5 separate regions of the Homo sapiens genome follow, and all the other regions are linked to region 5. The links come from fine-mapping of genetic effects on gene expression. A gene starts in region 5. Each other region holds a variant in brackets. All regions are shown on one strand. Distances are from middle to middle.

Region 1 (6,572 bases), 350 kb before region 5:
CAAAATAGGTAATGTACCAAGGGAAAACCAACCCTGAGGCTCACTGCTAACTCACTGCTAACATTTTTTTGGGTAACTTAATTCTGACATAATTTCAAATTTACCAAAAAGTTGCAACAATACTACAAAGACTCTAGTATAACTTTTTTGCAGATATACTAATTGTTTACATTTTACCCCTTTTACTTTATTTTTCTTTATATATGTTTATGTGTGTGAATGTGGATGTGTGTATGTGTAATTTTTTCCTGAAATTTCCCAATTAAGAATAAGTTGCAGACATCATGCCCTTTTACCTCTAAATACTTCAGGGTGTATTTCCTAAGAACAAGGATGCTCTTTTACAGTGCAAGACTTACGTAACTCCTGCATGGTAGACACGGGAAACTCAGCATTGATCCAATACTATTCTCTAATCCACAGCCCATATTCAAGTTCAGCTGTGTCATGATCTTTTCACAGGTTTCCAGCAAAAGTCCTGAAAAGTCCTGGAAATTCAGGGCAATATAATGAGTTTTCTTAAAGCCAATATGTATTTAGCTTAAAGGATTATGCTCTATTCTAAAACCTGCTCTCCTCTCTTTTTATTTTTTTGGTGTTTAAGATGTCGCTTGTCTCTTTTTTGATGAAATGATGGTGCCAGGAGAAAGTGATTTGTTAGCCTAGGCTCATGTCTGCAGTCCCAGCACTTTGGGAGGCTGAGGTAGGAGGATCACTTGAGGCCAGAAGTTCGAGGCTAGCCTGGGCAACAAAAAAATAAATAAATAAATTAGCCAGGCATGGTGTCGTGCACCTGTAGTCCCGGCTACTTGGGAGGCTGAGGTGGGAGGATTGCTTAAGCCTTAAGAGGCGGAGGTTGCAGTAAGCTGAGATTGCACCACTGCACTCCAGCCTGGGTGACGGAGCGAGATCTTGTCTCAAAAAAGAAAAAAAAATGGTTTATTATTTCTCTGATATTCTTACTTGACAAAATAAAAACTGGGTGGTTGAATGTTAGTCCACGGACTTCTTTTGTAGAGATGCCCCTATATGGCCCCTCCAGCTCCCGTGGTCTCTAATTCTGGGACCCCTCACCTGAGGAAGGTTTCCTGCGCCCTGTTGAGAGCACAGCCACTCCTGAGGCTGGGGTGGGGGCTGGGATAGGCAGACACAGGCCCTGCCCCAGGAGCAAATGGTTTCTTACCCAGCAGAGGGGACCTTTATATGTTTTTTTGTTTTGTTTTGTTTTGTTTTTTTGAGACGGAGTCTCATTCTTTGGCCCAGGCTGGAGTGCAGTGGCATGATCTTGGCCCACTGCAACTTCCATCTCCTGGGTTCAAGCGATTCTCCTGCCTCAGCCTCCCGAGTAGCTGGGACTATAGGCACGCACCACCATACCCAGCTATTTTTTGCATTTTTAGTAGAGACAGGGTTTCACCATGTTGGCCAGGCCGATCTTGAAAGCCTGACCTCAGGTGATACTCTTGCCTCGGCCTCCCAAAGTGCTGGGATTACAGGTGTAAGCCACTGCGCCTGGCCCACCTTTATGTTTTCCAGACTCTCTGGCCTCTGTCTGGAACCTTCCTGACCTTGTGAGTCTCCCCAAGAGGCAGACTCTAGGCACCAGGCCTCACTTTCCCAGCCTCCCTTGCAGTTGCTGCAGGCTTGTGACCTGGCTCAGCCAATCAGACACACACATTCAGCAACCCTGACTCAGGCAGAAGACACAAAGAAGCAGAGATGGAGTGCATCTGCCCCAAGTGGAGGCAGCAGCAGCAGCAGGAGGGAGGTGTCGGGGCAGTGGGGCCGCAGGGCCAGTCCTCAGGTTGGTTACTCAGTTGTCCTCCCTGGTCTGTCCTCAAGGCGTGATTTGGGCTGGGGTTCTGGCTGCCGTCCAGCCCTCCCTGGTTGCTGTGAGCCTGGCTCTCTAGCCAGCCCTAGAAGTCCGTGAGTTAGTTCTCTGTTGCTTGCAACCAAGAACCCTGACAAGTAAGTACAAAGAAGTCAGTATTCATGGGGATGGCAAGGAAGGGGGGCCTGGAGTGTGGACACATCTGGGCTTGATAAGCAGTGATTCTGAGGCATGGGCAGCCATGGAGGAATCTTGTTGCCTTGTCTGAAATGTGGATGGGACACCCTGTCTAGGTGCTAGGTGGGGAAGCCCAGACAAGGAGTGCTGTGGGTAAGGGGTGGGAGGGATCTAAGAGGGGAGAGCCTAAAGCTGGGGACTGAGGATTGAACTGGGAGGAGAGAGATGGACTCAGGAAGAAGAGGAGGGTGGCATTGCAGAAGGAGATAGCCAGATTGGGTCACATGGTTCCACATGCTTAAAATATTTTTTCACCTTTTTCTTTTCTCTTTTTTTTATTTTTTATTTTTATTTTTGAGAGGGAGTCTTGCTCTGTCACCAGGCTAGAGTGCAGTGGCACAATCTCAGCTCACTGCAACCTCTGCCTCCCAGGTTCAAATGATTCTCCTGTCTCAGCCTTCTGAGTAGCTGGGATTACAAGCATGCACCACCACACCCAGCTAATTTTTTTTGTATTTTCAGTACAGATGGGGTTTCATCATGTTGGCCAGGCTGGTCTTGAACTCCTGTCCTCAGGTGATCCGCCCACCTTGGCCTCCCAAAGTGCTGGGATTACAGGTGTGAGCCATCGCGCCCGGCCTTTTTCACCCTTTTCTATATGCCAGGCAATGTATTGGTTAATAAAACAGTCCAGGGATGGGTATTATCCTCATTTTACCTACAAAGAAATTGTGTTACAGGAGGATTAAACAACCTGAATAAGATCAGAAAACCAGAAAGGGACAGGGTCAGAATTCAGACCTAAGTCTGCCTAACTCTGACACTGATGCTCTTAACAACCTCAACAGGTGCTCAGATGAGGAAGCAAAGTCTCTGCCTCAATCCCTGAGTTTTTATATAGTCGGCCCTCAGTGTCTGTGGGTTCCTCATCTGTGTATTCAACCAACTGCTATCAAAAACATTTGCGGGCCGGGTGCGGTGGCTCATGCTTGTAATCCCAGCACTTTGGGAAGCTGAGGCGGGCAGATTGCTTGAGGCCAGGAGTTCAAGACCAGCCTGGTCAATATGGTGAAACCTCGTCTCTACTAAAAATACTAAAATTATCTGAGCATGATGATGCACGCCTGTATTTCCAGCTACTTGGGAGGCTGAGGCAGGAGAATCACTTGAACCCAGGAGGCAGAGGTTGCAGTGAGCTGACATTGCGCCACTGTACTCCAGCCTGGACAACAGAGTGAGACTGTCAAAAAAAAAAAAAAAAAAAAAAAATTGAAAAAATATGAGGAGGCTGAGGCAGGCAGATCGCTTGAGCCCAGGAGTTCAAGATCAGCCTGGGCAACATGGTGAAACCCCATCTCTACTAAAAATACAAAAATAAATTAGCTGGGTGTGGTGGCGCACACCTGTAGTTCAAG[C/A]TACTTGGGAGGCTGAGATGGAAGGATTACTTGAGTCAGGGAGGCAGAGGCTGCAGTAAGCCAAGATTACACCACTGCACTCCACCCTGGGAGACAGGAGACCCTGTCTCAAAAAAAAGTTTTTGAAAAAAAGTTGTGTCTGTACTGAATACACAGACTTTTTTCTTGTCATTATTCCCTGAACAATATAGTGTGTACATTTATGTACTGTAACAACTATGTACATACCATTTACATTATAATTAGGTATTTAAAGTAATCTAAAGATGATTTAAAATACAGAGGAAAGGCTGGGTGTGGTGGCTCACACCTGTAACCCCAGCAATTTGGGATGCTGAGGCGGGTGGATCACCTGAGGTCAGGAGTTCGAGACCAGCCTGGCCAACATGGTGAAATCCCATCACTACTAAAAATACACAAATTAGCCAGGTGTGGTGGCGGGCGCCTGTAGTCCCAGCTACTCAGGAGGCTGAGGCAGGAGAATGGTGTGAAGCTGGGAGGCGGAGCTTGCAGTGAGCCGAGATAGCGCCACTGAACTCCAGCCTGGGCCACACAGCGAGACTCCATCTCAAAAAGGAATTTTATCACTGTGAGATAACACACTTTTCTTCTTGTCTAAGCCAATTGAATAGGAGTTCTGTTTCTTGTCGCTAAAATATCCTTACTAATTTGGTATGCTAATAGCTGCAGCAGGAACAACAGCCATCAGTTAAAAGGGGAAAACCTGACTCCTTGACCAAGGGGGACCCTGAGAATTCCCTTCGCCGCTGGTTCAGTGGGGAAGAGGGAGAGAGTGTGCAGAAGCACAGGCGGCCCGAGGCCCTTGCACTCTGAATCTTGTGGCAGGCAGAGAGCTCCCATCGGAGGAGGCGCCGCTGCTGGCCAGCCAGATTTCCAACTCCCATTTCCTGTAGGGTCAGCAGAGGTGGAGGATGGGGTAGGCAGAGGAAAGCAGCTTTAGTTTCCGAATCAGGATGGAAAACAGATGTCCCAGTACCCCGCTGGGCCCAGATTCACCCTGGACAGAGGCTGGGCCTGTTCTCAGCCCTGACCCGTCCACCAACCTCCTGTCCGCCACATCAAGTCCAGATGTGGCTTCTTCCAAGTTCTAATAATAATTTTGATTTGTTGCAGCGAAGCAACCTTCACCCCCTAGCTCAACCCTAAACTTACCAACTCACCATGGAGTAGAGAAGGAGTAACACTATGAAAGCTTTGTAAGGAAACCTGGGTGGGGTAGAGAGGAGTGTGAACTTGAGATTCAGACCAATGTGGGTTCAACCACAGCCTGGTCTTTTACTAGCTTTGTGATCTCAACCATTACATCAGTCATCAGCTTCTGTGTAAGAAGCCACCACAAAACCTAGTGGCTCAAAATAACAACTGTTTATTGCTCACGATTCTAAAATTTGGGCAGGGATTGACAGGACAGCTCACTTTTTCTCTACATAGTGTTGCAGGGAATTTTGCGTGTGTGTGTGTGTGTTTTGAGACAGGGTCTCACTTTGTCACACAGGCTGGAGTGCAGTGGTGTGATCATAACTCATGGCAGCCTCAAACTCTCGGGCTCAAGGGATCCTCCTGCCTCAGTCTGCCAAGTAGCTAGGACTACGAGTGCACATAACCATGCCTGGCTAATTTTTAAATGTTCTGTAGAGTCAGGGTCTTGCTATGCTGCCCAAGCTGGTCTCGAGCCCCTGGGCTTCCTCCCTCTTCACCCTCTCAAAGTGCTGGGACTCCAGGCACAAGACATGGCGCCCTGCCCATGGTGTTGTGTTTTGTAAGTTAAGACAATGGTGCATGTGCATGAGCAGAGGAAGTCCATAAAATGCATGTCCACCCTGTTCCTGGTCTCTCATCTCTGTACAGATCATTCCTTTTCTTTTCATCTGTCCTTACTCATCAGTAAACCAAAGGAAGAGAGTGTTGGTAGAATATATGCATAGCAAGAAGAGAAATTAAAAGGTGTTAGTTTTGGCCAGGCACGGTGGCTTATGCCTGTAATCCCAGCACTTTGGGAGGCCGAGGCAGGTGGATCACCTGAGGTCAGGAGTTAGAGACCAGTCTGGCCAACATGGTGAGACCCCGTCTCTACTAAAAAAAAAAAAAAAAAAAACATTAGTAAAGTGTGGTGGCACACACCTGTAATCCCAGCTACTCAGGAGGCTGAGGCAGGAGAATTGCTTGAAGGTGGAGGTTGCAGTGAGCCGAGATCGCGCCACTGCACTGCAGCCTGGGTAACAAGAATGAAACTCTGTCTAAAAAATAAAAAATTTAAAAAAAAAAGTTGTTAGTTTTGTGTGGTGTTCCCACTCTTCTGGTAGGAATGAAATATATATGCATGTATGACCTATGAAATATGAATTGCATAATTCTGATGATTGTACATATGAGCTAAATGCTCTTTTTGCATTTAAAACTGGCTTTGCACCATATAAAGTTGAACAGCAAAATTCATAGTAACATTTTCAAATTTTAGCTTTTTTATTAGGGTAGCATTAAATAGCAAGTTAAAAACACCATGGTGAGTTAAGGGAGAGAGACTATCAAAAGAGAAAGCTTTATATTTTAGTGCCTCTAACAATGTTTATCTTGCTTTTTGAATAAGGGGCTCCACATTTTCATTTTGCTTTGAATTCCAAAAATTGTATAAGCCTAGGCATAGGCCTCTTAAAGCCTGTGCCAGAACCGACACAGCATCACTTTTGCCACATTCTATTGGTCAGAGCAAGTCACAAGGGCAGCCTAGAGCCAAGGAAGAGGTGGGGGTATGCAGGTGTGTGTGTGTGTGTGTGTGTGTGTATGTGTGTGTGTGTGGTGCGGAACTGGCTCCACCTTTTGAAGGGAAGAACAGCATTCTAATACAGAGAGGAGAGGAATTGTCAGTGACCATCTTCGCAGACAATCTACAACCACCATAGGTCATCCCCTTTCTGATCTCATCTTCTTATCTGTAAAATGGGAATGATTCCCCAGGGTTGATGGAGAATAAGGGAATATTGTGCTTGCAATTTCCTGGAACATGGTGATGCCTCATTCAGGGTTGGTCCCTCCCCTTCTATTTTTTGTTTTGGGAGGGCGGGGAATGGAGCCTCACTTTGTCGCCCAGGCCGGAGTGCAGTGGCACAATCTGGTCTCACTGCAACCTC
Region 2 (6,572 bases), 28 kb after region 5:
GCAGACTCAGTGCAGCACTTCCACACCAAGAAGGCCCTCAATAAAGGCTTCCTGAGGAACGCACACCTGGGGGTCTGCCGCAGGCAGTCATCACTGGCCTTCCCATGTGCCCCCCAGGACCATGTGGTGTGTCTGGGGCATCAGGGCACCAGGTGACCATGGACGTGTTGGAGGGTCTGTTATTGGGCATCCCTGTTTGTGGATGGGCATTCTTCACTGTGTGTGTGACTTGATCCACGCATGCTCCATGCCTGGTCCTGGGAGCACGGCTAATGTCATCTCTCCACTTCCTTCTCTGTTCTCATTTATTCTTTTTACTTTTTTTTTTTTTTTGAAACAGGATCTCACTGTCACCAAGGCTGGAGTGCAGTGGTGTGATCAGAGCTCACTGCAGCCTTGACCCTCCTGGCTCAAGTGATTCTCCCACCTCAGCCTTCTGAGTAGCTGGGACTACAGGCATGCACCACCACACCCTGTTAATTTTTTTTTTCTTTTTTGTAGAGATGGGGATTTCACCATGTTGCCCAGTCTGTCTTTTTACATAACTTTAAAACACTAGCATCTGTTGAGTTTTTTTCCAATAACAGAAGTCATCTGTGCTAACTATAGAAAACCCAGAAATACACAAAATCCCCCACCCAGAGCTAACCACTGTTAATACCTAAAGACTATGATCAGCCTGGAGAGGGGCATGAAGTTGTACCAGGAGCTCAGCAGTGTTGGTGGGGGTGTCTGGCCTTGTGTCCCCTTCCCTCCCCTGTCATGCACAGGTGCCCTGTTCAAAGACTCCAGAGGGACCCCTGAGCCTGCTATGGGTGTCTAGGGATGCTGGAGGCCTCAGAGGCACCAGTGGGAAGAGACAAGAATGTGGAACCTGCAGCGGGCGCAGCTCAGTTTCCTGGGACTTCCGTGAGAAGTCAATGAGGGCATGCACATGAGAGTGACAGATCTGGACAGAACAGGTCCCTGCGTGGACTCAAAGCTTCCTCTAGAAAAGAACACTTGACCCCTGTCTCCCTCATCCCCAGCCCAGTGGCTCACTGCCTTCCTACACTCCACTGGGAGCAGAGAAAGACCTGCCTTTGCTGAAAAGGCTACTGGCCCTAAGAGACATCGGGACCTTCAACCTCCTCGTCACCCCTAAGGGCTTTCCTCTCCTGCAAGCAAAGAAAAAACACCATCAGGCTCCTTCAAACACAAATGGTCCAGGATAGGCACAGGCAGAGGCTCCACGCGGCTCGTTCCTGGCCTGTAGCAATGCACTGCTCCGTGCAGGACCTGAGAAGAAGACATAGAATGTTCCAGGGAGGACCCAGGTCAGAATACCGATGGCCGTGAAGAGAAGAGTTTACTCTCATATGCAGGGCAAGCTTAATCCAGAGAGAAAGTCATGAAAATTAGATCTGTTTTTGTGAACACTCGCTCTGTCCCAAGGAATCCCCTAGAAGTTTGTTTTTTTTTTTTTTTTTTTTTTTGAGACGGAGTCTCACTCTGTTGCCCAGGCTGGAGTGCAGTGGCGCGATCTCAGCTCACTGCAAGCTCCGCCTCCCAGGTTCACGCCATTCTCCTGCCTCAGCCTCCCGAGTAGCTGGGACTACAGGCACCTGCCACCACGCCCGGCTACTTTTTTTGTATTTTTAGTAGAGACGGGGTTTCACCGTGTTAGCCAGGATGGTCTCGATCTCCTGACCTCGTGATCTGCCCGCCTCGGCCTCCCAAAGTGCTGGGATTACAGGCTTAAGCCACTGTGCCTGGCCTATAAGTTTTTACATAAATTATCTCATTTTATCCTCACAACTCTCCAAGAAGGTGGTAGTGCCTGATTTTACAGATCAGGCTCAGAGAGGTTTGGAAATAGGGCAGCTCTGTTTCCAACCCAGGCCTGTCTGCATATGGAGCTTAGGCTGGGCCTCACCACCCTGCTTCTCCCAGGGATGTTTGCCCTCAGCCTTGACCAAATGGGAGCCCAGGGCAGCCAAGAGAGGCCAGGGGCCACTGTGCCTGGGACACAGAGGCCAGGCCACACATGGCAGACTGCTGACCCCAGCCAGTTGGCAGTGATGGGGTCAGGCCCTGGAGCCTGGAACCAGCACCTCCCTTGGCCCTGCTGTCCCGGGTTATCAGGAGCCTGAAGCCCTCATCTCCACCCACAGGACCAGCCCATGGGCTCATGAGAATACCTCACCATGGGACAGCTGGACTTGTACCTTGTCTGGAGCTAGCCCCAGCCTCCCACTCCCTATTCCGCAGTGAATGCTAATGGGGGCAAGGAGTGGAGTGGACAAGGAGCCATGGGGAGACACAGACAGGGAAAAATCAGGATTGTTCTATTTGCGGGAGAAGCCCCCAGCTCCCCGTGCCATGGCAGTAGAAATTTGGCAGGGGCGTCCCCGTCCATGGGGCCTACTTCACCGTGTACCCGGACTTGGGACCATCACAGACTTCGGAACCATCAGGAACCTGGGAGCAACTGAAAGCTGAACTACAGTGGGCTTTCAGACACACAGCAGGCTGGCGGAGCACAAATAGGACTGGTTCCCTCCAGGCCACCAGCAGGGCGGTGGAGGTCTTCACTGACTCCCTGCCTACCTCTCAGGACAATGTCCTTTTGGCTCCACAGTCCCTGAAGCCAGAGCTGGTGGGGGCAGGGAGGCAGCCACCAGCCTCTATATGTAGTGGAGGAGGGGGTGTCCAGGGAGGGCTGCATGATCCTGAGAGCCCCCACCTCACCCGGCTGGACTATCCTCCCACTTCAGGGTTTCTCTGGGCTTCCATCTTGCCCCTGCTGAGCCCTGCTTCCTCCTCTACCAGCAGCACAACCCCCAGGCTGGGCTCAGAGACCTCATGTGGTGGGATCACTCAGTACCCCGAGGCGGAGGGAAGGAGGGAGGGCTGCAGGGTTCCCCTTGGCCTGCAAACAGGAACACAGGGTGTTTCTCAGTGGCTGCGAGAATGCTGATGAAAACCCCAGGATGTTGTGTCACCGTGGTGGCCAGCTGATAGTGCCAATCATCCCACTTTGCCCTGAGCACTCCTGCAGGGGTAGAAGACTCCAGAACCTTCTCTCAGGCCCATGGCCCAAGCAGCCCATGGAACTTCATAACCTGAGCTCTCCATCTCCCTCTCTCTCCTCCTCTGTTCTCCCTCCCTCCTTCTCTCCCTCACCCTCCTCTGCTCCCTCTGCCTTTACCACTGTGGGGGGGTCCTCTGGAGGGCCCTGCCACCCCACCTCTTCCTCGCTGGTGTCTGCCTTCCTGGCACCAATCCTGGCCCTGGAGTTTGTCCTGGGCCTGGTGGGGAACAGTTTGGCCCTCTTCATCTTCTGCATCCACACGCGGCCCTGGACCTCCAACACGGTGTTCCTGGTCAGCCTGGTGGCCGCTGACTTCCTCCTGATCAGCAACCTGCCCCTCCGCGTGGACTACTACCTCCTCCATGAGACCTGGCGCTTTGGGGCTGCTGCCTGCAAAGTCAACCTCTTCATGCTGTCCACCAACCGCACGGCCAGCGTTGTCTTCCTCACAGCCATCGCACTCAACCGCTACCTGAAGGTGGTGCAGCCCCACCACGTGCTGAGCCGTGCTTCCGTGGGGGCAGCTGCCCGGGTGGCCGGGGGACTCTGGGTGGGCATCCTGCTCCTCAACGGGCACCTGCTCCTGAGCACCTTCTCCGGCCCCTCCTGCCTCAGCTACAGGGTGGGCACGAAGCCCTCGGCCTCGCTCCGCTGGCACCAGGCACTGTACCTGCTGGAGTTCTTCCTGCCACTGGCGCTCATCCTCTTTGCTATTGTGAGCATTGGGCTCACCATCCGGAACCGTGGTCTGGGCGGGCAGGCAGGCCCGCAGAGGGCCATGCGTGTGCTGGCCATGGTGGTGGCCGTCTACACCATCTGCTTCTTGCCCAGCATCATCTTTGGCATGGCTTCCATGGTGGCTTTCTGGCTGTCCGCCTGCCG[A/C]TCCCTGGACCTCTGCACACAGCTCTTCCATGGCTCCCTGGCCTTCACCTACCTCAACAGTGTCCTGGACCCCGTGCTCTACTGCTTCTCTAGCCCCAACTTCCTCCACCAGAGCCGGGCCTTGCTGGGCCTCACGCGGGGCCGGCAGGGCCCAGTGAGCGACGAGAGCTCCTACCAACCCTCCAGGCAGTGGCGCTACCGGGAGGCCTCTAGGAAGGCGGAGGCCATAGGGAAGCTGAAAGTGCAGGGCGAGGTCTCTCTGGAAAAGGAAGGCTCCTCCCAGGGCTGAGGGCCAGCTGCAGGGCTGCAGCGCTGTGGGGGTAAGGGCTGCCGCGCTCTGGCCTGGAGGGACAAGGCCAGCACACGGTGCCTCAACCAACTGGACAAGGGATGGCGGCAGACCAGGGGCCAGGCCAAAGCACTGGCAGGACTCAGGTGGGTGGCAGGGAGAGAAACCCACCTAGGCCTCTCAGTGTGTCCAGGATGGCATTCCCAGAATGCAGGGGAGAGCAGGATGCCGGGTGGAGGAGACAGGCAAGGTGCCGTTGGCACACCAGCTCAGACAGGGGCCTGCGCAGCTGCAGGGGACAGACGCCAATCACTGTCACAGCAGAGTCACCTTAGAAATTGGACAGCTGCATGTTCTGTGCTCTCCAGTTTGTCCCTTCCAATATTAATAAACTTCCCTTTTAAATATATTTATTTGCAAGACCAAATATCTGTCTTTAATTCTAACCTGGGACTGTCAGTAGGCGTCAAAGTGAGCGCCCCAAGGTGAAGGGAAACTTGGGAGAGAGTGGGGAAGCCATCCCACAGCCCCATCCCAGGGGGCACTGTCCTTCCCAGAACTTCTGGGAAGCCCCGGCATGTCCTGAAAGGCAGAACTGCTTTCTTGGGTGAGGCCTCAGGCAGGCCACCAGGGCTCCAGGCCCTCGGGTACAGAGTTTGATGCTGGGGACCTAACATCCCTCCCCAGTTCCCTCAATCCACTTAGCCCAGCCCTCTCATATCATGGACAGGACGCACCCCAGCTACTAAAGTCGTCAGGAATAGAAGTGAAAGCCCAGAAGTGTCACACACAGACCAGGAGGGTGGCATCAAGGGTCCATGTGGATGCTGGGGAGGGAGCGAGAGAAAAAGTATCAGGCAGAGGGAGGTGGGCCCGGGAAGGATGAGCGGGTGAGTACCAGACCCCGCCTCCACCGTGTATCTCCAGCCCACTTCCCTGTTCTGAAAATCTACCTGCTGCACTCAGAAACCTACCAAGGTACTGGGGTGCCACCTGGGCCCCCCCCAGGGTTGCTCTTCTGTCTCTCGGCTCCCCATGGGCCCCTCTTGCCCCCTCAACTCCTACTGCTCCCTTTTACTCCCTGGAGCCACGCCTAGGGGGTCCCTGCTTCTCCACGCCCTCTGTCACCACAGGGAAGGGAGTCCAACCCTGGGCGGGGCCACCTCAGCCTGAGTCAGGTCTTTTAGGAAAGGCCTGCACACTCCTGGAGGATGGGGACTGAGCAGCTCCTTCGGGTGGATCCCCACCTGGGGCGCCAACACTTACCGCCAGCTCAACACCAGGCACCTTTCCTCTGGTACCATCTCTGCCCCTGAATGCGCCCACCTGGGCTCAGGGCAGCTCCACGGGCCATTTCCTCAATCTCCTCTTCCCTGGACCCTTCTCCTACCAACTCCTCCCTCAAGTCCTCGCACCTCTCCCAGCACCTGCCCTCACTCCTTCATGACCTGATGGAAGGGAAATGGACAGATACTCCCATGGTTTGCAGGCATGTCTGCAGTCCTGTCTTTTCCCATCAAGGGAGAGAGCAGAGGCTGCCCTTGAGGAGTTCCTGGGTAGATGCTGGTCACAGGGTTCAGGCCCGCACTCCTAACCTGCCCTGGATTCTCCTTGCTCCCCATCTTGACCCTGAGGACTGCTTCCTCACTGACAGTCTGGGTCACACCACCCTTCCCCGCCTTTCCATCATTTGCAAGGCCTTCTCTAAACGGGGTTGGGTGCTCCCTCGCGAAGCAGGCTTCAGGCTGCCGCCACATGGAGGTAGGACTGACTCCCTGGTCCGAACTATGGCCCCAGCCCACTGTACCCTTCTCTGGACTTAGTTCTCCATCTGTGAATAGGAATAGTAATCCTGGCCCTTGCCCAGCTCCAGGGGCTGGGGATGGGAGTAACTATATGCCCAGAGCACTTGGTGAGGAAGGCAGTTATTATGTGGAGCAGGGAAGGGAGAAGGAAGAGGAGTGGGAAGAGAAAGAAAACTGTGTTTAAGTGTAGGGTTTCCTAGAGATGGAGTAGTACCCCGTGGTGGTATAATGGGAGCTGGGGGCAGGCGGAGACCCCATTTCCTACATTTGGGTTCTAAATGGCATTTTGGTCCCGGGGACAGGCTGCACTATCCAGTGTGAATTTTGGGCAGCATCTTCCACCCTTTTTTCTCTTCTTTCTCCTAACATAATCTGCTGCCCCCCTGAGAGAGGATCAGATGGCATGCATTACCTTCCTCCAGGGACTCCTGAGCAGGGGGCAAGCAGGCAGGGCTGGGTGACAGGCCAGCAGTCATTAACTTGCCAGTGCTTACTGGGCACCTGCCGTGGGCCAGACACTGAG
Region 3 (6,572 bases), 62 kb after region 5:
AAGCAAACTAAGAGGAAAGTTTATAGCAAAAAGAGCCTTGATATGGTTTGGCTGTGTCGCCACCCAAATCTCAACTTGAATTGTACCTCCCGGAATTCCCACATGTTGTGGTAGGGACCCAGAGGGAGGTAATTGAGTCATGGCGGCCAGTCTTTCCTGTGCTATTCTCATGATAGTGAAAAAGTCTCACAAGATCTGATGAGTTTATCAGGGGTTTCTGCATTTGTTTCTTCATTTTCTCTTGCTGTCACCATGTAAGATGTGCCTTTCACCTCCTGCCATGATTCTGAGGCCTCCCCAGCCATATGGAACTGTAAGTCCAATTAAACCTCTTTTTCTTCCCATTCTCGGGTATGTCTTTATCAGCAGTGTGAAAACAGACTAATACAGTACATTGGTACCAGCAGAGTGGGGTGTTGCTGAAAAGATACCCGAAAATGTGGAAGCGACTTTGTAACTGGATGACAGGCACAGGTTGGAACAGTTTGGAGAGCTCAGAAGAAGTCAGGAAAATGTGGGAAAGTTTGGAACTTCCTACAGACTTGCTGAATGGCTTTGCCCAAAATGCTGATAGTGATATGGACAAAAAGGTCCAGGCTGAGGTGGTCTCAGGTGGGGATGAGGAACTCGGGAACTGGAGCAAAGGTGACTCTTGTTATGTTTCAGCAAAGAGACTAGTGGCATTTTGCCCCTGCCCTAGAGATTTGTGGAACTTTGAACTTGAGAAAGATGATTTAGCATATCTGGCAGAAAAAATTTCTAAGCAGCAAAGCATTCAAGAGGTCACTTGGGTACTGCATTCAGTTTTAAAAGGGAAACAGCATAAAAGTTCAGAATATTTGCAGCCTGACTATGCGATAGAAAAGAAAAACCCATTTTCTGGGGAGAAATTAATGCTGGCTGTAGAAATTTGCATAAGTAGCAAGAAGCCTAATGTTAATCCCCAAGACCATGGGGAAAATGTCTCTAGGCCATGTCAGAGGTCTTCACAGCAGTCCCTTCCATAACAGGCCTGGAGGCTCAGGAAGAAAAAGTGGTTTCATAGGCCAGGCCCAGGGTCCCTGTGCTGTGTGCAGCCTAGGGACTTGGTACCCTGTGTCTCAGCTGCTCCAGCTGTGGCTGAAAGGGGCAAATGTAGAGCTTAGGCCGTGGCTTCAGAGTGTGGAAACCCCAAGCCTTGGCAGCTTCCACATGGTGTTGAGCCTGTGGGTGCACAGAAGTCAAGAATTGAGGTTTGGGGGCCTCCATCTAGATTTCAGAAGATGTATGGAAATGCCTGGATGCCCAGGCAAAAGTTTGCTGCAGGGGCAGGGCCCTCATGGAGAACCTCTGCTAGGGAAGTGTGGAAGTGAAATGTGGGGCCAGAGTCCCCACACAGAGTCCCTACTGGGGCACTGCCTAGTGCAGCCGTGAGAAGAGGGCCACCGTCCTCCACACCCCAGAATGGCAGATCCACCAACAGTTTACACTGTGTACCAGGTCATTTTGTCAGCATGACCTGGATATGAGACCCGGAGTCAAAGGAGATCATTTTGGAGCTTTAAAATTTGACTGCCCAACTGGATTTCAGACTTGAATGGGCTCTATAACCCCTTTGTTTTGGCCAATTTCTCCCATTTGGAACGGCTGTATTTACCCAATACCTGTACCCCCACTGTATCTAGGAAGTAATTAGCTTGCTTTTGATTTTACAGACTCATAGGGAGAAGGGACTTGCCTTGACTCAAATGAGACTGGACTGTGGACTTTTGGGTTAATGCTAAAATGAGTTAAGACTTTGGGGGACTGTTGGGAAGGCATGATTGGTTTTGAAATGTGAGGATATGAGATTTGGAGGGGCCAGGGGTGGAATGATATGGTTTGGCTGTGTCGCCACCCAAATCTCAACTTGAATTGTATCTCCCAGAATTCCCATGTGTTGTGGGAGGGGGAAGTAATTCAATCATGGGGGTCGGTCTTTCCCACGCTATTCTTGTCATAGTGAGTAAGTCTCACGAGATCTGATGGGTTTATTAGAAGTTTCTGCTTTTGCTTCTTCCTCATTTTCTCTTGCTGCCACCATGTAAAAAGTGCCTTTGGCCTCCCACCAGATTCTGAGACTTCCCCAGGCATATGGAACTGTAAGTCCAATTAAACCTCTTTTTCTTCCCAGTCTCAGATATGTCTTTATCAGCAGTGTGAAAACAGACTAATACAAGCCTACATCAAAAAATTAGAAATACTTCATATAACCTAATCAGTGCATATTAAAGAACTAGGAAAGCAAAAGCAAACTAAATCCAAAATAGTAAAAGAAAAGAAATAATAAAGATCGGAGCAGAAATAAGTTGAATCAAAATGAAGGAAGCAATACAAAAGGTCAATGGAACAAAAAGGTGATTTTTTGAAATTATAAACAAAATCAATAAACCTTTAGCCAGACTAAAGAGAAAAAGAGAGAAGACACAAATAAAATCAGAGATGAAAAAGGAGACGTTACAACTGATATCACAGAAATTCAGAGGATCATTAGAGACTATCATAAGCAATTAAATGCCAACAAACTGGAAAAGCTAGAAGAAATGGATACATTCCTAGACACATACAACCTACCAAGATTGAATCATCAAGAAATCCAAAACCTAAACAGACCAATAACAAGTAATGAGATCAAGGCCATAATAAAAAGTCTCCTAGCAAAGAAAAAAAGCCCAGGACCCTATGGCTTCACTGCTGAATTTTATAAAACATTTAAAGAAGAACTAAAACCTATCCTACTGAAACTACTCCAAAAAATAAAGGAGAAAGAAATATTTCCAAATTCATTCTGCAAGGCCAGTATTACTCTGATAGCAAAACCAGAAAAAGACATATCAGAAAAAGCTACAAGTCAATGTCCTGATGAACACTGACGAAAAAACCTCAACAAAATACTAGCAAATTGAATTCAACAATTCATTTAACAAGATTATCTCATGACCAAGTGGGATTTATCCCAGGAATGCAAGCATGCAAGTCAATCACAAATCAATCAGTGTAATATATCACATCAACTGAAAGACAAAAACCATCTGATTATTTTAATTGAGGCTGAAAAGCATTTGATAAAATTCAACATCCCCTCATGATAAAAATCCTTAAAAAACC[A/G]GGAATACAAGGAACACACTTCAACACAATAAAAGCCATATATAACAGATCCATAGCTAGTATCATACTGAACAGGGAAAAGCTGAAAGCCTTTCCTCTAAGATTTAAAACAAGACAAGGATGCCCAGTTTCACCACTGTTATTTAACAGAGTACTGGAAGTTCTAGCTACAGCAATAAAACAAGAAAAAAAAAGTCATCAAATTGGAAAATAAGGAGTCAAATTATCCTTGTTTGCAGATGATATGATCTTATATTTGGAAAAACCTAAAGACTCCACAAGAAAGCTATTAGAACTGACAAACAAATTGAGTAAAGTTGCAGGATACAAAATCAACATACAAAAATCAGTAGTATTTCTATATGACAACACTAAACAATCTGAAAAAGAAGTGAAAGATCTCTACAATGAAAACTATAAACCACTGATGCAAGAAATTGAAGAGGACACCAAAAAATGCAAAGATATCCCATATTCATGGATTGGAAGAATCGATACTGTTAAAATGTCCATACTAACTCAAAGCAATCTATGGATTCAATGCAATGCCTATCAAAATACCAATGATGTTCTTCGCAGAGATAGAAATAATAGTCCTAAAATTTATATGGAATCACAAAAGACCCAGTATAGCCAAAGCTATTCTGAACAAAAGGAACAAAACTGGAAAAATCACTTCATCTGACTTCAAATTATACTACAGAGCTATGGTAAGCAAAACAGCATGGTACTGGCATAAAAACAGACATACAGACCAATGGAACAGAATGGAGAACCCAGAAACAAATCTATACATCTACAGTATAAACTCATTTTAAACTCATTTAAAACAATGGTGCCAAGAACATACATTGGAGAAAATATAGTCTCTTCAATAAATGGCACTGGGAAAACTGGATAGCCATATGCAGAATAATAAAACTAGACCCCTCTTTCTTGCCATATACAAAAATCAAATCAAAATAAATTAAATACTTCAATCTAAGACCTCAAACTCTGGGCTGGGCGCAGTGGCTCACGCCTGTAATCCCAGCACTTTGGGAGACCGAGGCAGGTGGATCACAAGGTCAGGGGATCGAGATCATCCTGGCTAACACGGTGAAACCCCGTCTCTACTAAAAAAAAAATACAAAAAATTAGCCGGGCGTGGTGGTGGGCGCCTGTAGTCCCAGCTACTGGGTAGGCTGAGGCAGGAGAATTGCATGAACCCCCCGGAAGGTAGAGCTTGCAGTGAGCCGAGATTGTGCCACTGCACTCCAGCCTGAGCAACAGAGCATGACTCTGTGAAAAAAAAAAAAAAAAAAAAAAAAAAACTCAAACTGTGAAACTAATAAAAGAAAACACTGGAGAAACTTTCTAGGACATTGTTCTGGGCAAATATTTCTTGAGTAATATCCACAGGCACAGGCAACCAAAGCAAAAATAGACAAATTAGATCATATCAAGTTAAAAAGCTTTTGCACAGCAAAAGAAACAGTCAACAAAGTGAAGAGACAATGCACAGAATGGGAGAAAATATCTGCTATCCATCTGACAAGGGATTAATAGCTAGAATATATACGGAGCTCAAACAACTCAATAGGAAAACAATCTAATAATCTGATTAAAAATGGGCAAAAGGTGTGAAAAGACATTTCTCAAAAGAAGACATACAAATGGCAAACAGGCATATGGAAAGGTGTTCAACACCAATGATCATCAGAGAAATGCAAATCAAAACTACAATGAGGTATCATTTAGCCCCAGTTAAAATAGCTCTTATCCAAAAGGCAGGCAATAAGGAATGCTGGCAAAGATATGGAGAAAAGGGAACCCTCATACACTGTTGGTGGGAACCCTATACACTGTTGGTGGGAATGTAAATTAGTACAACCACTATGAGAACAGTTTGGAGGATCCTCAAAAAACTAAAAATAGAACTACCATATGATCCAGCAATCCTGCTGTTATATACCCAAAAGAAAAGAAATCAGCGTATTGAAGAGATATCTGCACTCCCATGTTTACTGCAGTACTATTCACAGTAGCCAAGATTTGGAAGCAACCTAAGTGTCCATCAACAGACAAGTTGATAAAGAAAATGTGGTACATATACACAATGGAGTACTATTCAGACAAAAAAGAATGAAATCCTGTCATTTGCAACAACATGGATAAAGCTGGAGGACATTATGTTAAGTGAAATAAGCCATGAACAGAAAGACAAACTGCACATTCTCACTTACTTGTACTAAAAATTTAAAAAAATTGAACTCATGGAGATAGAGAGTAGAATGGTGGTTATCAGAAGGTAGGAAGGATAGTGGTAGGAGGTATGATTAATGGGTACAAAAATATAGTTAGATAGAATGAATAAGATCTAGTATTTGATAGCTAACAGGGTGACTACAGCAACAATAATTTATCGTACATGTTAAAATAACTAAAAGAGTAAAATTGCACTGTCTGTGACCAAAGAAAGAATAAATGCTTTAGGTAATGGATAACCCATTTACCCTCATGTGATTATTAAGCATTATATGCCTGTATCAAAACATCTCATGTATCCCATAAATACATACATCTACTATGTATCCACAAAAAATTAAAAATTAAAAAATAAAGCACATGAAAATTTTCAATCGTAAGATCAATTCTGTAAGGCAAATGTCATCTGTATTCTACAGATTTATAGAGGAGAAAACTCATCCAAAAAAAAAACCATGTGATTCACCCAAGGTCACACAAGAAGCAATCAGAGGAGTAAGCAATTAATCCTAACTGATTCCAAACACTCAGATACCCCTTTTTCCCCCCATGGCACAGACAAGTTCCATCTCCCCCTGCTGCCTTCTCTTCAGGGCTTTCTGACATGGAAATGTTTTCCAGTAATGGCTCTTCTATCCCTGCTGGCCTAAGCCCTCACCTACTCACAGCCACTTGGAGTTAACCAAGTAGGGCAAACATAGTAGGTGATACCTGGTTTGCTAGCAGTAAAAATGTCCACAGTGGAGGAGATGGGACTGGAAACCACAATGACAGCATACGGCACACTGCTGGACCGACATCCTAGGGAGAAAGACTGAAGTATAGGGAGACTGGCAAGGCACTGTGCAGATCTCTAATTTTGAACCTTTATTCTTTTTATCATTACTGACTCCTTGCACTGAGTACTGAGGCTTCTTGCGTATGCAGATTTCTTTCTTTCTTTCTTTCTTTTTAAGAGACAGGATCTCACTCTGTAACCCAGGCTAGAGTACAGTGATACAATCATAGCTCACTGCAGTCTCAACCTCCTGGGCTCAAGCAATGCTTCTGCCTCAGCCCCCGCCAAGTAGCTAGAACTGTGGGTGCATGCCACTACATCCAGCTAATTTAAAACAAAAACTTTTTTAGAGTTGGGGTCTCACTGTGTTGCCTAGGCTGGTCTCAAATTCTGGGCTCAAGTGAGCCTCCCGCTTTGGCCT
Region 4 (6,572 bases), 79 kb after region 5:
CTAATTATTATGCAACCACTGACAAGTATAAATGATCCAATTTCTTTTCTTCCTATTCAGGTGATTCCCAGGAGAAAAAATAAATTACTAAGCTATGAAGCTTTTCACCTATTGTTGAATAATAGTGAAGATACAGGCAGAAATATAATAAACATCTTGTGGAAGAGTAATCTAAATAAACACTAGGAAGCAACCCAAAGCCTGTAAGGATCAAACGCCTGCCAAACCATTGAGTTAACACTACATAATTTCTTGCTAATATTACTGATTCACCTGAAATTCAAGTTATATTTGGGATAAGGACAAGATAAATTTTTCTTTCTTCTCTATTAATAAAGCTGGAATGAGTCATCTTGGTTATTTCCTCAATGTCTTGACAAAGGCAATCACCATATTACTAGTAATAAGATTTGCCTTTTATTCCAGTCTAGATGACCCAAAGGAAAACTGCCAATATGGCAGCAATTGATAGACATTGATGGCTATCATCAACAAATCCATCAAAGAGGTCACCAACACAATACCCAAAGATACTTCATTTTAAACTATATTTGCTTCTAATTTCTCATTAAAAATAGGAGGATTAATTATATGATGTTCTAAGTGACAATTTGCATTACAGAGTACCTCTGAATGGGAGATCAAAGCTTTTTAGAAAGAAGCATATTTCACTAATCCTCATAATATTTTATAGAAAGTTCCAGCTACTCAGGAGGAGGAGGAGGGAGGATCCCTTGAGTTAGAGGCTATAGTGAGCCATGATCACGCTACTGCACTCCAGGCTGGGTGACAGAGCAAGACCCTGTCTCAAAAAAAAAAAAAAAAAAAAAAAAGTAGTTGGTGGCAAGAATTATGTCTCAACTGTGAAAAAATTAGAGTGAAAAGATTCTAGGACTGCCTTAGTCACTCTTTAACATAAGAAAAGTTGTTGCCATTCAGTAGGAAAAATACAGTTGGCCCTGAGGAAATAGCCATAGGTGGGATTGTCTGGCCCACACTTGAGTTGGTTAGAAGGAATGCTGGGCTGCACTCAATGCCAGGCCAACAATGCTGCCACTTGTCAGACAGTCCTTGCTCCCAAATTACTCACCTAACTCCACTTCAACAGGGAGATATGCATTTGAAGTCACAGATAATGAAAGCAATCTGAGAAATCCCCAAAGAACCCAGAAGGAATCAAAACCTGTCCAGAGAGAACATCTATATCTCACTCAAGTCACTTGACTGGTCACAAGGAACATGTCTTTAGTTTCCTAGAGCAGGGGTCCCCAAGCCCCAGGCCTCAGACCAGTACTAGTGGTAGCAAGTTAGGAACTGGGCCGGACAGCAGGTGAGCATTACCGCCTGAGCTCCGCCTCCTGTCAGGTCAGTGGCAGCATTAGATTCTCATAGGAGCGCTAACCCTATTGTGAACCGCTATGCGAGGGATCTAGATTGCCTGCTCCTTATGAGCCTCTAACTAATGCCTGATGATCTGAGGTGGAACAGTTTCATCCCAAAACCATCACGGCCCACACCACCCAGTTCATGAAAAAATTGTCTTCCATGAAACCTGTCCCTGGTACCAAAAAGGTTGGGGACCACTGTCCTAGAGGATGATCTATATTTCCTTGGGGTTAACCTAGAAATACACTATTACTTTTGTTGAAACTCATGGTTATTTTTCTACAGTGTTTTGGAAATACTGGGGGCAGTGAGATGGAAACCCTGCAATATACACACAGAATTCACAAAAACATCCCACATGTGCATTCAAGAACCCTGTCAAGATAAAACTATCAGTAGAGTTTGCTTCTAGAACTGGAAAGGTATTTTTAAAGAAGCCACAAAACTCATGATTTTTTTTTTATAAATTCAACTATTAATATGTCTTTTTTTAAAAAAAAATCTGCTTGGCAAATACACCATAAAGTCAAAGAGAAAACGGGGGAACTATTTGTATCACATATCACAGATTAAGAGATAACTTTGTTAAAATATAAAAAGTTCCCACAAGTCAGTAAGACTGCCAATAGAAAACAGGCCACGGGCAAAAACAGTTGACAGAAAAGGAGATAAATGGTTTTCAAATATAGGCAAAGATTTCTATCTCATTCAAAATGAGAAATGCAAGCTAATATAACTTGTCATCTGTCAATTAGTCACGGGTTTCAAAGATGGGTAACACTGCCAGCAAAGTTCTAGAGAAATAGGAATTGTCTAGATGTTGTGAGTGGGACTGTGAATTGCAGTTTTTCTACGGGCAATAAAACTACACCAAAATTCAAAATGTATGCTCCTTGGCCCCAACTTTAACTTTTAGGGATCTATCTTGTAAGGAACATTCCCATTTTATACATCAGTATGAAATGATATCTGCATAAGGATATTTGTTGCAACATTATTTATGATAGAAAATGACTGAAAATAACTTAAAAGCTTTTAATAGGAAACTAGTTATGGTACAACAAAATAGATTATGCAGCTGACACAAAAAGGAGGCAGTTTTCAATACAGTGGCACGGTATGTTAAGTAAAAAGCAGCAAGGGACAGAGCAATATAGACAGTATGTTAATATCATATAGAAACAAACAATAAGCCTACTTAGACTCTTATAGATGCACAGAATATTTTTTGGATACTTAAGGCAACGATGATAATGGTTATCATTGAATGGGGTAAATCAGGAATGAGGAACGTGATGAGATTTGTAACCACTTTTGTACCTTTAGAAAAATTTTTCAGTATCCATTCAAAACCAAATTTTTATTAAACTCCCTCGGCTTATACCACAAGGCACATACTAAAAAAAAAATTTAAACTCTCTACCAAAAATACCAAAAGAAGCAAACCAACTATTCTCTCATGATTCAAGCTTAAAATTTCAGAAAAGCTTATACTCATTAACTTTAGCTGAGAAATCTCTAGAAAAATCTCATAAAACACATTTTTCATCAAGTGGGGTCTTGAGATACTTCCAAAGCCAAATTAGCTTCTTCAAACAGAAAAATAGCTTCAGGTTCCTCCCAAATAACCTCATACAGGGGAATACTGTGGCCCATTCAAGTCTGGTATGTTATCAGCCCAAACCACTTCACTCTCTCTGCAAGCCACCAAGGTGCCAGGCAAATCATCCGGATTTACTTTTCCAGGCACTTTAGCTTCATCTTTGGAATGTTGCTAGTAAACCTACTTCTATTTAACCTCAGTCTGTGAGGATCCTGAGTCTCAAGTGCTGATAATCCTGTGTGCATCAGGTGTTTGGATGATTCTGTAGATCTTTGGTGAAGTCTCTGAAATAACGTCTGATGACAATAACAGAGGAACGTCATTCTCCCATACATAGCTTTTTTACTAGGGGGAGGGACCTCAGGGGGGAAAAAAGAAAAGACGGCTAACTTTTTTTTTTTAATAAAATATGGAACACTTCACTAATTTGTGTTGTCATCCTTGCTCAGGGCCATGATTATCTTCCCCATATCATTCCAATTTTTAGTATATGTGCTGCTGAAGTGAGCACGATGTCCAAACTTGGTATTTTATAACCTTGCTGTTGGGCCACAAATCTTAAGAAAACAGTACGTTTCTTTATGCAATGAAGAATTTTGGTCTACCAATCCATTTTTAATAAGTACTGTCTACGTGGTAGAACTGGCTCAGGCATTTTACCAATGTTAGTAACTTTTGGCATGGATTTATACATTCACATATAAAGATTATTAAAATAATATTTAGGTATTTGGGGAAATTGGTTTAAAAAATAAATTTTTCATAGTGAGGCCCCATCTCTAAAAAAAATAAATTAACCGGTGTGGTGGGCCACACCCATAGTCCCACCTACTCAGAAGCCAAGAGGATCACTTGGGCCCCAGAGTTCAAGGCTGCACTGAGCTATGATGGTACCACTGCACTCCAGAGCATGGGCAACAGAGCAAGACCGTCTCTTAAAAAAAAAAATTCCTATATATGGATGAAGAGTGGTAAATCTTCCCACCCCTTTCCCTCACCCTCCCAGGTTCCCTTACCTCAGATGTCATTACTCTTTACATATTCTTTGAGATATTTTATGAATCTGCAAAGACCTTTTTTGTTTTTACTATTTGCTTTAATACAGGTTTAAAAAGCTCCCATTTCTTCACTTT[C/T]ATGCAGTGTCATCCCATAAACTGACTATGACACTGGTTGTGATGGTGCTGCCGTGGCCAGAGGCAATTGAAGAGGTCACCTTCTACAGTGCTTGGAAGAGTCTCAAGCTCACAGGGAAGAACTAATAAATTATTCTAAAATGCATTAATTAGAACTCTAGATCCATCAATATTTTGAGAATAACACACTTCAGCCTTATCTGAAAGTACATTCACATTGCATCACAGCGATTCTTAACTTTCTGCAGGGTGGAGGAGGGCCTAACACTGCCTTTGAGAAACTAAGGAAAACTTACTGGAAAACACACACACACACACACACACACACACACACTCTCTCTCTCTCCTATACACTCCCAGTAGATCACAGACATGGTTGCCTATGGACATCAGGTTATTAATACCTAATCTCCCTAACAAGCCAAGATCAAGACATCTGCTGAAGAGGTTGTAACAAGGTAAGTATAAGAACAGAAGAGATGATAGCATAATCAATTAGATGTTAGGAAAAGTTCATTGCTTGTCTGAAAAATAAAAAAGAGTAGACGGCTGCTGAAACACTGTCATTTTAAATCTCAAGGTAAAATTATTTAAGAATCTGATTATGTACAACTCAATGACCAGTGAAGCTAAATACAAAACAAAATAATACATGCTCTCTGAATTTCATCCAGATAGACGACTGCTCTTTTATGATTACTATAATCTATATGCTTATAGAAATAAAATACAGGTAACTTAATTATGATCCCTTTTAGCAGCATGGCCCGTCAATTGAGAAAAAAATTAGAACGAGATAAAAGAAAAATATACTTCATTGAAGAATAATCAAAACAAAGATAATGTGCAAATTAACTGAAAATTAACACACAAGCCCTGGGGAAACAGAGTTTCCTCAGCAGCCAACTGAGTTGCTGATGGTTTCTCTTCTAGTCCTAGGACAAAGATGATACTGGATCCCCACCAATCTTAATGGAAAAGTCTCATTCATTTTCATTCTTAAATGTTTTACTTTTTAATTTTTATTTATTTATTTATTTTTTAATGCGGAGTCTGTGTTGCCCAGGCTGGAGTGCGGTGGCATGATCTCAGCTCACTGCAACCTCTGCCTCCCAGGTTCAAGTGATTCTCTTGCCTCAGCCTTCCAAGCAGCTGGGATTACAGGCGTGTGCCACCATGCCTGGCTAATTTTTGAATTTTTAGTAGAGATGAGGCTTCACCATGTTGGCCAGGCTAGTCTCTAACTCCTGACCTCAGGTGATCTGCCCACTTCGGCCTCCCAAAGTGCTAGGATTACAGGCGTAAGCCACCGTGACTGGTCTTCACCATTTTATTTAAAAAATTACATGAAAATGTGTTTTAAATGAGCTGAACAATTTAGACTATAAATATTTCTAATTCCCAAAATGGGAAAGTGGTAACGTAAGTCCATGAGGTCTCAAATGCTAGCACAAAACCTAAATATAAGCCTAAACTCTCAAATATACATGAATCTAATATAGTAATCCCCCTTCTGTGGGACTCTGACATTGCTACCACTTTCTTTTTTTTTTTTTTTTTTTTTTTTTGAGATGAAGTTTCGCTCATTGCCCAGGCTGGAGCGCAATGGCGCAATCTCAGCTCACTGCAACCTCTGCCTCCCGGTTTAAAGCAATTCTCCTGCCTTGGCCTCCTGAGTAGCTGGGATTACAGGCGCCTGCCACCACGCCTGGCTAATTTTTGTATATTTAGTAGAGACAGTTTCACCATGTTGACCAGGCTGGTCTCGAACTCCTGACCTCAGGTGATCCACCCACCTCGGCCTCCCAAAGTACTGGGATTACAAGCATGAGCCACCGCGCCCAGCCCTCAACTCCCTTTACAAAGCATTTTTCTTCTTATAGAGCTGCTACTTAAGTTTTAAAGCCTTTCAACTATTCTGCTAAAAATTATCTTTAGGAACAAAAAATGTTTTTTTCAGTCATCATTCCTTTTATTGATATCCTCTTTAAATCAAAGGGGAACATTTCATAGTAAGAGATTTCTTAGAATGGCTTTAGGATTTCCTATCTGTTAGGCCAGACAGCAAGTTTTGTCACCCCTTAAGGAACAAAAGCTGCACGGCTCTAACATGCTAGCCTGGAATGTGACTCCAGAGCTAACATATTAATTATACACATATTGTCAGAGACATGGTAATGACAAAACGATCCACAATTCATGGACACATATGATCTCTGTGCTAACAAAAATAAAAATAAAAAAGATAAGCAAGACCAAATGTGTTGAAAATAAGAGTAGTAAGTCATGTAAATGTTATGTGGTGATATATATGATACATGATCATGAAATGGAAACCAAACTGGACAAACAGGCTGCTCAACCATATGTTTAGATGCTAGCTTATGAAAATGCAATGTGTAATTTCAGAAAACTCACCCAAAAATGAGTTTAAAATTTACTTGTAATTT
Region 5 (5,976 bases):
AGTTATTACCAGCCAGGTTCAGCAAAGCCTAGAAGGATCTGCTGGTCTCAGTGACCTGGGCAGGCAAACACCACCCAGCGGAGGCCAGGGGAAGACACCAGCAAGCAGGCCAGATCCTTTGAGCTTGGATCGTGGGGTAGATTCTATTTGCTTCTAATCCTTTAGTGCAGATGAGCTCCTGTGTGCAGAGGAGAGAGGTGGCTCCTAGAAGCGGGTAAATTCCAGAAACTACAAGGGGCCCAACAGTCAGTATCCAGAAGGATTCCAGATGGTTCCAACTCAACAATGCCAGAATACTCACAACATAGCAACTGTCCGTTTTCTGAACATTGGAGTCCAGTGGTGCCTGAGCCAGGAGGCTTGCCAATTCAGTAGACCAGACGTGGTATTTGCTCTACACAGCACAAATCAGAGGGCATATTTGATAGTGATAACATAGCAGTCATTTAGCTTGTGTAGAGGGTTACTCGGGATATTTCAGACCCCCAAAATTCTACTTGTGGCCTTAATTATTCACATTATTTGATCACATCAGTTAAAATACAGAGTACCTATCATTCTTTCCTTTGCACTATGGTAACGGAACATCTGTTGGGCTGAAATCAATTTTTTCTCCTTTTTGTGTGAATTCATTGATGCCTTCATCCACCCACTCACCCATCCCTCCATTTAACTAACACTCAAAGCAAACTTAACACATCTCAGATCCTCAGTGCTTCATGTGTCATTGTTTACGTCTCCTCTGATTACTTGTAGATGAGAAAAATAAAGAAGGTGGTGTGAGTTACTTGGGTGCAAAACGATATTCTAGTTTTGCACTAGAAGTGCTCAGCTAAAACTGTGCTAGATAAATAACTAAAAAAAAGGAGAGAGAAAAATGAAAAAAAAAAAAAGAGCGTCAGAGAGGAAACGGGAGGGTCTCAGTGGGGAATTCGGCTTCCTGTCGTCTGGGTTTTGATTTTGAGTTGTACTAGAGGAGTCTTTATGTCTGGAATGCTGAGAAAACCAGCCCAGGCCAGGCGGGCTGTGAGGGCAGGATTTAGAGGCGTTTAGTTTCTTAAACTCTATAGTCTGGATTCCGGTGTCAGGGGCCTGAGCCATTTTCCTCCTCCCCTACCCGTCAGCTCCCACTCCCTCCAAACTTCCTAAGAAAGTTCTGAGTCCTGCAGAAAGACAGGCTTCTCCATCTTCCACACCCGCGCAGATTTCTCTTTCCTCACACATGCACGCCCAGGCCCAGCGCCCCAGCCCCTCACCCCCAGGATAACTGTTAGAGTCTCTCACACGGGGCTGTCATCATTAACACCCCGAGATTCCCGAGGGCTAGGACACTGAGGCCGGTGTCCACATCTGCCAAATTCCTCCCATAGCTGCGTGCGAACTGAGTATGTTCCTAAGACGCCTAAGGAGTTCAGCACGGGGCTCGGGGTCCACTGCGACACTGCGCGGACAGCGGCCGCTCGGCTGGGCCTCAGGTGGGGAGGGCTCGCGGTCCTGCCCTGAGCCCGGGCTCCGCAGCTCGGCGCCTGCACCGCTCCCCTCGCCGAGCCCGCGGCGGAGTCTGCCGGCCGCACGCAGCAGGTCTGGGGCTCACCTTGAATCGGGACCTGCGGGGACCGCCGTGCGGCTTCCCGCTGGGTGAGCGCCGCAGCCCTGAGTGGCGGGGCAGTCATTCCCCTTTTCCAGATGGGAAAGCCAAATCTTGAGCCCAGCGCCAGCACCGTGTTCTCAGGTGCTGGGACTTCCAACCCGCGATCTCCTCACTGTAGTATTTCTGGGAACCTTCCCTGGGATTCCCCTCGGGGCGTAGAGGGAAGGAACGTCTGGGGACAAGCGTCCAGGAAGGGTCTGGATTCTTTGTCCTCCGCCGGGAGCAGGCCCCACCGCAGGCGCCAGTGTGTGGGGCGCCCCGGAGACGGTGGCGGGGACCGAGCCCCTGCCCCGCGGAGAAGCAGAGGGCGCGGGACGCCGTTCCCCAGCGCTGCCGCCGCCGCGCTCGCCAGGGCCTGGAGTGGCGCGGAGGGCGGCGGGCTCAGACCAAAGTCCACCAGGGGGCAAAGTCCGCGGGCCCCAAGCCCCCACCACGGGGTCGCGGGGGTTTGCTCCGCCTCGTGAGCTTGGGATTCTGGTTAAAAAGGCGGCTGGGCGGAGCTGCGGGCCTCCGACGGCGGGAGGACAGCGCTGCGAGGAGGCGCCCGGGACAGTCATGGAGCGCCGCCTGGGAGTGAGGGCCTGGGTGAAGGAGAACCGGGGCTCCTTCCAGCCCCCGGTCTGCAACAAGCTCATGTGAGTCCAGCACCCCCATGGCCGCCCCCTGCCCTCGCCTCCTCCCCCTCCTCCATCTGCGCCCTCACCTTCCAGCTCCGAGTTCCTGGACCCAGAAGCTTGCAGAAGGACCGCTTTAATCTCTTGGTTCTTGGGGGAAGATGGAGACAGGCTGTTCCGGTTCCACCACATCGGTCTGTTCCTCTTTCTTGTGACTGTGGCCTTGACTTCTGAAGAAGGCTGAGCTGGTTCTCAGGCTGTAGGAGATGACATGACAGGGTGCACCTCTCCTTCCAGGGCTGAGAAACAATTCTCCAACCCCAAGTGACACTGTGCATTTTGGGAAAACTCAAAAGTGTGGGGAGGGTGGTTTTCAAGGCAGAAATGCACTAGAATGTAGGCCTGGGGGCAGCCAAATCATACACCCCAACCCTGTCCCAGAAGCCACAGGCAAAGGGGGAGGCAGAGAATCCGCTCCTTTGGGAAGATCTTGATGTCTTGCTTTTTTCAGGGCCCCTCTATGCAGGTGTGCACGAACACACACACACACACACCACACCAGACCCTCCCTAGGCCACCTCTGCCAGTAGCCTCTGCCTGCAGCACCCAACAGGGTTGGCCATCCAGCTGCCATCTTTCTCAGGCAGACCTCTCAGGCCCTCCCCTGTGGTATGGTCACCTCCCTCATCCCCCCAGTTCCATGGCGGGGCCCCACATGCCAGCTAGATCAAGGTTTACATTCCCCATTTTTGCTGTGTCCACAGGACATGGTCAGTAGGGTGGCACCTCAAGGCAAACAGCAGGCCCAGGACTATGCCAAGTGTTTTTACATCATCTCATCTCATTCTCACAGTAGCACCGTGAGGGGGGATTTTCATAAGTAACTTTTCTAGTGTCACGGAGCGCCTGTGCGATAGGCTCCAGACTCAACCCACGGAGCAGTTCGACTCCAGAGTCCACGCACACTCTTGGTTACCATGCAATACCACATGGCCAACAGTCAATATCTCCCCAAAGATCTCTTCTATCACTGTTGTTGCCCACCCCCAATTAAAGATGTAGCATCATCTTTGCCTCCTTCCAACACTTCATCCCCATCTGCAGTCGCTCCTTCTCAGTCCTCCCTTCGCTCCCCCTGAGGTCTCGCGTCCATCTGCCCGGGCCTCTCCCTAGCATTTGGTGGTTTGCTGGCATCATTGGTATTCTTGCTTCTGCTGTACCACGCCCACCTCCACCTTCGTCTTCACAAGGCAGTCTCCTTGTGTGTGTGTCTGTGTCCAAATTTCCCTCTTTTAAAAGAACACCAGACATATTGGATCAGGGGCTCACCCTACTCCAGGATGACCTCATCCTAACCTAACTACATCTCAAGGACCCTATTCCAAATAAGGTCACATTCTGCAGTACTGGGCGTTAGGACTTCAACATATAAATTTTACAGGAGGGGTTACTATTCAGCAAGGTGAGAAGCTGCTGAAGCAAGCAAGGTGAGAAGCTGCTGAAGAGTTCTGGGCAGAGGAGGGGCAGGTCTGGTTTATGCATTCTGACTGATGGGTTGAAAGAATTCTTGAGTGGAGTTGTTTAAGAATTGTCTGTATGTACCTAAATTACATCTCAGTGAAGTTGATTTTAAAAAACAACTTTCAAGCCGGGCGCAGTGGCTCATGCCTGTAATCCCAGCACTTTGGGAGGCTGAGGTGGGTGGATCATTTGGGGTCAGGAGTTCAAGACCAGACTGGCCAACATGGTGAAACCCCGTCTCTGCTAAAAATACAAAAATTACCTGGGCGTGGTGGCACGCGCCTGTAGTCCCAGCTACTCAGGAGGCCGAGGCAGGAGAATTGCTTGAACCCGGGAGGTGGAGGCTGCACTGAGCCGAAGTTGTGCCACTGCATTCCAGCCTGGGTGGCAAGCAAGACTCTATCTGAAAAAAAAAAAAAAAAAACAAACTTTCCAGGTTCCCCAGCACCCCTTAGGCCAAGACCAGACTCCATGGCTGGTCCACCCTCCTGGACCAGCCTTCTCAATCGTTCCCCAAGCTCACCCCCAGTGCTTCTAATCTCAGAGCCTCTGCACCCAGCTCTCCTGTGCACACTCTTCCCCAGTCAAGTTCCTTGCGGCTTCCCTCCCCTCCTTGAAGCTCTATGCAGCTTTAAGTTCTTTAAGCATGGACTGTTCATGACAGCCTTCTCCTGCCCTGCAACCTCATCCACCTTTCCAAACATCAGGTCCACACGTGTGTTTCCGGTTTATTGGGCCCAGCCTCCCAAAAGGGAAGGAAAAGGAAAGAGACTGGCTCTTCCGTCTTGCCTCCATGCCTCCCAGCTGGGCTGGAAAGCAGCCCACAGGACAGGACACTCAGAAAGGACCTGCCAGTCTAGTTTGGGGGCTCAGACCTCCCCCATAGCCCCTCCCCTGCCATCCACACCATCGTCATCCATGCAGGCAGCCTCTAGGCTGCTGTGCCCTGTGTGTACAAATGGTCCCAGACCCAGCGCCTCCCCTTCCCAGAGGAAAGCCCTTGCCCCTGCCCTCTGTGGCAGGGCCACCTGAGAACACCCTGAAGCCCTACACAGACACATTCTGCTGCTTATTCACCCCAGTGTCTGCACCCTGAAAGGGGACCCTGCTGTGGGGATGGGGCAGGCTGTTCTCAGGAGGTGCTGAGGTATTTTTTGCATAAAAAGGTAACACCACACCAACAGCAGAAAGACTGAGGAGTTTGGGAACCCTTTTGTTCCAAACAGCTGACTAGATGCCCCACAGACCCAACGCCAGCGTGGGAGTCAAGGAGCCTGAGACCTGGCTCAGGTTCAGTCATTCCCTGGCTTTGTGACCCTCTCTTGGCTGGCTAAATCGGCTGTAAAATGAGAGGGTTGTATTGAGTTTATTTATTTATTTATTTATTTAAGACAGAGTCTCCCCCTGTTACCCAGGCTGGAGTGCAGTAGCGCAATCTCAGCTCACTGCAACCTCACCTCTCAGGTTCAAGCGATTCTCGTGCTTCAGCCTCCCAGGTAGCTGGGATTACAGGTGCCCACCACCAGGCCTGGCTAATTTTTGTATTTTTAGTAGAGACAGGGTTTCACCATGTTGGCCAGGCTAGTGGCCTCAAGCAATACATCCGCCTCTGCCTCTCAAAGTGCTGGGATTACAGGCATGAGCCACCACGCCCGGCCGGGTTTATTTATTTTATCAAATACTTAAATAGTGCTTACTATATGCTAGGCACCATTCTGAGAGCTTCCAAATATTAATTCATGTATTCTGTTTAAACTCTGTGAGGTAAGAACTGTTCCTCTATTTTACAGATAAGGTTAGTAACATGCCCCAGGGCCTGTGCTTATAAACACATGCCACACTGACTTGACACCGCCTGAGGCCCCTGCTAGATGTCACGGTCTCCTGCATCCACTGAGCCATGCCTCCAGCCAGGGGAGAGTGCAGGGTCCTATAGTCAGACAGCATGGGTGAGTGGCAGGTCAAGGTCGTTTTGCCCCTACACTGCCCCATCCTGGGAAGGGGTCTTCAATTTGCTACTCTCCTGTAATTCGAGATCTTGATCCTGTGATCCTGGTTGATGAAGCCATAGATTCACCACCACATCATTTCCCTTGTTGGGTCAGACGATGTGGGGGGACACACAAACAATGACAGACAGACACACAGACACGATCCCAGACACATAGACACTTAGATGCACGCAGGCAT

Alleles and levels. Positions count from the first base shown, and alleles are read on the strand shown. Sizes are in standard deviations (SD) of each study's normalised expression. Not every link is listed here.
With allele G in place of A in region 3, the expression in cerebellum of the gene that starts at base 2,160 in region 5 is higher (moderate effect, 0.52 SD a copy in GTEx).

Evidence for each region. PIP is the estimated chance that this variant, and not a neighbour inherited with it, causes the effect.
Region 1: its variant is fine-mapped to the expression of HAAO in lung (GTEx, PIP 0.98).
Region 2: its variant is fine-mapped to the expression of HAAO in lung (TOPMed, PIP above 0.99).
Region 3: its variant is fine-mapped to the expression of HAAO in cerebellum (GTEx, PIP 0.96).
Region 4: its variant is fine-mapped to the expression of HAAO in whole blood (TOPMed, PIP above 0.99).

What each region holds. Positions count from the first base shown.
Region 1 is chr2:43,138,258-43,144,829 of GRCh38, reverse strand. No RefSeq gene overlaps it. Among named protein-coding and RNA genes, the nearest start is that of LINC02580, 39 kb to the right of the region's middle. RefSeq lists enhancers at 3,693-4,263, 4,572-4,641, 4,264-4,835. The variant C/A (reference allele first, on the strand shown) is at 3,424.
Region 2 is chr2:42,760,580-42,767,151 of GRCh38, reverse strand. It overlaps OXER1 (oxoeicosanoid receptor 1), which reads left to right and starts at 3,017. Exons shown (of 1, transcript NM_148962.5): 1 at 3,017-4,653. The coding sequence starts at 3,090. The coding sequence ends at 4,244. HAAO (3-hydroxyanthranilate 3,4-dioxygenase) reads left to right here. Exons shown (of 10, transcript NM_012205.3): 10 at 1-63. The variant A/C (reference allele first, on the strand shown) is at 3,956.
Region 3 is chr2:42,726,954-42,733,525 of GRCh38, reverse strand. All of the region lies in intron 16 of MTA3 (metastasis associated 1 family member 3), which reads right to left. Among named protein-coding and RNA genes, the nearest start is that of OXER1, 34 kb to the left of the region's middle. The variant A/G (reference allele first, on the strand shown) is at 3,127.
Region 4 is chr2:42,709,668-42,716,239 of GRCh38, reverse strand. All of the region lies in intron 14 of MTA3 (metastasis associated 1 family member 3), which reads right to left. It also overlaps the pseudogene RNU6-137P. Among named protein-coding and RNA genes, the nearest start is that of OXER1, 51 kb to the left of the region's middle. The variant C/T (reference allele first, on the strand shown) is at 4,123.
Region 5 is chr2:42,788,767-42,794,742 of GRCh38, reverse strand. HAAO (3-hydroxyanthranilate 3,4-dioxygenase) reads left to right here and starts at 2,160. Exons shown (of 10, transcript NM_012205.3): 1 at 2,160-2,286. The coding sequence starts at 2,207. RefSeq lists silencers at 1,424-1,513, 1,594-1,693, 1,874-2,313.